2 separate regions of the Homo sapiens genome follow, and region 1 is linked to region 2. The links come from fine-mapping of genetic effects on gene expression. Tissue or cell type: whole blood. Region 2 holds a variant in brackets; the other region holds the start of a gene. Each region is shown on its reference strand, or each on the opposite one. Region 1 holds the start of GUK1 (guanylate kinase 1). Region 2 overlaps AP2B1 (adaptor related protein complex 2 subunit beta 1).

Region 1 (2,809 bases), not on the chromosome of region 2:
TCTCACCAACCCACAGTCGCAAACTCCAATCAGCTGCCTGGCAAGAAGCCACACAACCCACAACTGTAAGGACCTGCCAGGCACGTGGTCTCCACAGGAGCTCCGAGATGGAAGGTCTCCTGGGAGCCGCCGGCGCAGATCCATGTTCCGGAATGGTCTCTGCCAGAACGCTCCCTGGACTGGGCTCCCATGCTGCCCCAGCAGCCGCTTTCCTGGAAAGGCACTCCCTGCTGTGGCGGCATAATCTCCTCCTTCTGGCTTCCAGCCATCCTAAGGACTGAACAGAGTCACCACCTTGCCCCCGGCCCACTGTTCGAGGAGATGCTAACAGAGGGCTTGACCTTCTGAGAACCGAGAGAATTCAGCCCCCGCCTGGCCTCTCGTAAGACACAAACCACCAGACGTGGGCCTGGGCTCTGGGCTGGGCCAGGTGGATGAAGGGGAGGCTGGTGGTCCAGGCGGCTGCTCTTGGCTGCAGGGTTTCTGGGCACACATCCGGGTAGCACGCATCCTGGCCTTCAGCAACCTCGTTTTAAATGGGACCACACCAGGAGCAGCCAGGGCGCTTTCATTTTCACTTTCTTTCCCCGGGGGGGACAGGAACATTCCTTTACCTCCTGAGGAAATCGGGCTCTTCCAGAGCCACAGAGGAGTGAAGGCCCCAGCCCTTCACGATGCTGCGCGGCTATGTTTGGGTCTGTCCATCAGGGAGAAAGAAAAACCGGCCGAGTCTTGCACAGGGTCCTCGACAGCAACCCCAGGTAAAGAGCAGAGCAAGCCTGAGACAGGAAGGGGCCATGAGCCCAAAGACAGCAGAGCAGGACCCAGCCCGGGGCCTCAGGACCGACCTCTTTCATGCAAAGACGAAACCGAGGCCCACCACACGCAGGGTCAAAATCAACTTTGAGGCACCTGCTTCCCACACCAGTCCTTACTGGGGCATACTTCTAAGGCGACGCTCAAGAATGGCAGCAGGGCAGCTTCAAGAACCCCAACCCGGACTCTGGCTTTGGAGAATCCGAACCCCAAATGCCACACCCATGCGTCGGGAAGGCCTGCTGTTTCCCCAAGTCCCCGTCTCTGCGCCGTGCCGCGGAGTAGGCAGAATCCTGGGAGCCCCGGAATAGCCGGCTCCATCCGCCCAGGACCCCAAGGCTTGCAGGGTGAGGTGGGAACCGGAGCGCACACCGCGCCGGGCCAGCGGTAGGGACTCCCAGCTGCTCTCTTTGGCGGCGCGCCCAGGTGTCGGGAAGACACCGAGCGCTCCTATACGCCCGGGGAGCAGCTCGACACTGCGATAACTGCCGGCCTGCCCAGCTCCTGAGGAGCGCCCCGCCCTCCGGGACCCGGGCTCCGCTGCGTTGCCAGCCCGTCCGCCCTCCAGAGCTCCCCCGTTCTCAGGGCCCACAGTTGAATGCGGCACAGGGCGTCTCGGCTAGGAGGAGATCCGGAGGCGGCGTGGACTGGGCGACCGCAAAGCGCAGGGACCGCTGCCGCCTCGACCCGAGTCACCCTCGCGATCGCGCTTGTCGTACTCACCGTCCGGTGGGGCCCGGCCCAGGGCGGCCGCAGCCAGCCCGGCCAGCGGGCGCCGCAGCATCCGGGGCCACCTCTTCCGCCCACTGAACCTACGTGACAGCGCCGCACCGGCCCACCTCCGCCCGCGCGCGAGACTGACGTCATGAGGCGACTGCCCCGCCCATGTCTCACTCGTTCTTCCCCGCCCCTTAGGGAAGTACTTACCTCAGTGCCTCGCTAGCCCCGCCTCCACCTGCGCTGGCCTGTCGCGACCGCAGGGGCGTTCAGCACAGCGCCCTCCCAGCCCGTCTTCTCCCGCTGCGTCACAGCGCCACGCCGGCCCGCCTCCACACAGCGCGAACTAACATCACGACCCGCCGGCCCCGCCCACGGCGTACTTGTCCCGCTTGTCACTCAGAGAAGTACCTCAGTGCAGCGCGGGCCCGGCTTTCATCTGCTACGTCACAGCGCTGCCTCAGCCCGCCTCCTCCCGCTTATGTCACAGCGCCGTTTCCGTCCTCCATCTACACTGCAGGGACCTAACTAACGAACGACTCCGCTAGCCCGTTCCAAACCGGCCACTCTCCAAAAACCATTAATTGGGGAATGTGGCCGGGCGCGTGGTTCACGTCTGTGATCCCAGCTCTTTGGGAGTCCGAGCCGGGAGGACCGCTTGAGGCCAGGAATTGGAGACCAGCCTGGGGATCATAGGGAAACCCCTTCTGTACCAAAAAATTTAAAAACTTTTTTGTGCCTGTAGTCCTTGCTACTCGGGAGGCTGACGTGGGACGGTCGCTTGAGCCTGGGCAGTCGAGGCTGCAGTGAGCGGTGTTCGTGTCACTGCACTCCAGTCTGTGTGACAGAGCGAGACCCTATTTCTTTCTTTTTTTATTTTTTGAGACGGAGTTTCGCTCTTGTCACCCAGGCTGGAGTTCAGTGACGCCATCTCTGCTCACTGCAACCTGGGCCTCCTAGGTTCAAGCGATTCTCCTGCCTCAGCCTCCCGAGTAGCTGGGATTACAGGCGCCCGCCACCACGCCCAGCTAATTTTTGTATTTTTAGTAGAGACAGGGTTTCACCATGTTGGCCAGGCTGGTCTTGAACTCCTAACCTCAGGTAATCCACCAACCTTGGCCTCCCAAAGTGCTGGGATTACAGGCGTGAGCCACTGCACCTGGCCACGGGACTCTATTTCTAAAAATTATTTTAAATTTTTAAAAAAGATTTATTGAAGGCTGGGTGCAGTGGCTCACACCTGTAATGCCAGCACTTTGGGAGTCCGAGGCAGGCA
Region 2 (2,809 bases):
TACCACCACACCCAGTCAAGTTTCTTAATTAAATTTTTAGAGATGGGGCTGGCTATATTGCCCAGGCTGGTCTTGAACTCCTGGTCTCAAATAATCCTCCCAGTTTGGCCTCCCAAAGTGCTGGGATTACAGATGTGAGTCACCATACCCAGCCAAAAAGGGGGGTTTCTAGAGAAAGTTTCGCTTTAAAAATGAATTTTTAAATAGGATTTCCTTGGGGTTTGTTTGGTTGGTTGGTTTTAAGAGACAGGGTCTTGCCCGTCACCCAGGCTACAGTGTAGTGGCATAATCATATAGTTCACTGTAATCTTGAACTAGCAGATGGGACCACAGTGCATGCCACCATGCCTGGCTAATTTTTTTTTTTGGTAGAGACAGGGGTCTCACTATGTTGTCCAGGCTGGTCTCAAATTCCTGGCCTCATGCAGTCCTCCCATCTTGGCCTCCTAAGGTGCTGAGATTACAGGTGTGAGCCACCATAAGGTACCTGGCCTACAAATAGGGTTTCTTAAGAGAGCTTCCTCAGCACAAGTTGATTTATAAAAAGTTGGCATCCAGGTGACAAAGGGACACATTTGCAGCATTAAAAAAATAAATCCTTGGCCGAGCACGGTGGTTCACGCCTGTAATCCCAGCACTTTGGGAGGCTGAAACAGGTGGATCACTTGAGGCCAGAAGCTTGGGATCAGCCTGGCCAACATGGTGAAACCCTGTCTCTAATTAAAATACCAAAAATTAGCCAGGCATGGTGGTGCATACCTGTAATCCCAGCTACTCGGGAGGCTGAGGCACGAGAATCACTTGAACATGCGAGGCAGAGGTTGCGGTAAGCCAAGATCACACCATTGCACTCTAGCCTGGACAACAGAATGAGACTCTGTCTCCAAAAAGATAAAAGTAAAATAAAAAACTAAAAAAAATCCTTTATTCATCTTGCCTCCCAATTATGGTAAATTCTATTCTTGGGGAGACTGAAACTAAACATTCCCCACCCCTCACATCCCCTCAAAGAGCTAACCCAATTATGTATACTTTACAGAGATAGATATTAAACACAAACATATATATAAAAGCAGCACATGTAGATGTGTAAAATCATACTCAATCCTAGACAAATCTTTCTCCGCCTTAATTACAGACTTCTCTTCAATATGATATTTCCTTATGGACCTGTGGAATCTGCTGGTTGTTTTTGTTTTTTTTTTAAATAGAAACAGGGTCTCACTATGTTGCCCAGGCTTCTCTCAAACTCCTGGCCTCAGGCAATCTTCCTGCCTTGGCCTCCCAAAGTGCTAATATTACAGGTGTGAACCACCATACCCAGCCTGAATTTTTAATGATAAGCAATTTGTATTTTTACTTACATTATACTAATAGAATGAGTTTTACAGAGATAAAAGACTGGAATAGCTAAAATGTATTGAATATTTACTTTGTGCTATTAATCCTCATAACAACTCTGAAGTAGCTGCTACTAAAAGCCACCTATTACAGATAACAAAACTGACTTAGAGAAGTTCAGTGACTTGCTTAGGGTCAACACAGCCAGAAAGGGATTCCTGCTTGAATCTGAACTCAAGGTCTGCATCTGATTCCAG[T/C]GTCTGAGTACTAATACTTGGTCTCCAGCATTTATAGAGCTTCCAAGACTTGTGAACTTCAACCAAGGGAAGGGAAAGAAGATTCAGAGTAGGGGAGGATAATATAATCCAAACATTATTTCCAGCAAAGGTGACATGTAGATTTATATACAAGGAGAAAAATGTATTCTACTTTATACATTTCAGAGATAATCATATCCTACAGTACTTAGGGAGGGAAAGATTTACTACCTAGCTATAAAATATGATTTATGATCTATACCTGTCTTATATGCAGCAGTTGAGGATAATAAATTTGACCTCATTTTGTTAAAAAAGGAGTGAGCTGGTACAGTAGGTATGGTTAGAATAAAAATGACCCTGTAAAAAAAAGGACTCTCAAAGGAAATCTAGATATAAACTGGGAGTGGAATATCACACACATAAGCTCACTTATGAGGAATCTCTCACCCATTTCCCTGTCCCTTAAAATGATTTTCACCTTGCACTCTAATTTCACTCATTTTCGTGGCCTTGGAACCTTAGAAACTTACCACTTTCCAGTTCAGTGACTTCTTCCTGTTAAGTAAATTACTATTTACAGGACTTTGATTTCCAGCAATGACCTTCAAGGTCACACACTATGAACAGATTTATGCTTCAGTTTTTCTGCTCAATTTACAATTATTTTGGCTGGTATCCCTGAAGACTTGAATAAAGTGAAAGAAGTAGAGTAACTGACCAAAACTATTATGAGGAAATACACAGGTGGTTTACATATTTTTGTTCTCTTCTAAATTAGCAGTGTTAGAATATTGCTATCTCCTTTACAGAATGACCTCAAATGACATGTGAGGCATAGGACAACATATTTGTTCTGAGAGTTTCAGTCATTATTATCTCCTTAAGGAGACAATGACTGCAGTACCAGTCAAACAAGTAAAACTTAGGGCTTATACTTTAATCCAAAACACTGTCTAGAATGCCAACTGTTAATATGCCTGCTACATTACAATCTAGAATATTCCATTTTTTCCCCATCTTCTTCCTTAGAATGAGAGGTAAAACTACCTAGTGAGCCAACACATCTCATTATGAAAAGAAAGTCTGATTACATAGTAACAAGGTTTACAAAAAATAAAATTCATTACTTAAGTGGTTTAAGATATGATTTAACAAAATTCAAGTACTCTCAAAGCCAAAACACTACAAATAAATATCGATAAACAAAT

The links. PIP is the estimated chance that this variant, and not a neighbour inherited with it, causes the effect.
Region 1: it holds the start of GUK1, and the variant in region 2 is fine-mapped to the expression of GUK1 in whole blood (TOPMed, PIP above 0.99).

The regions. Positions count from the first base shown.
Region 1 is chr1:228,139,094-228,141,902 of GRCh38, reverse strand. GUK1 (guanylate kinase 1) reads right to left here and starts at 1,624. Exons shown (of 8, transcript NM_001159390.2): 1 at 1,540-1,624. The coding sequence starts at 1,600. RefSeq lists a silencer at 1,038-1,597 and enhancers at 1,608-1,837, 1,948-1,997.
Region 2 is chr17:35,617,878-35,620,686 of GRCh38, reverse strand. All of the region lies in intron 5 of AP2B1 (adaptor related protein complex 2 subunit beta 1), which reads right to left. Among named protein-coding and RNA genes, the nearest start is that of AP2B1, 32 kb to the right of the region's middle. The variant T/C (reference allele first, on the strand shown) is at 1,599.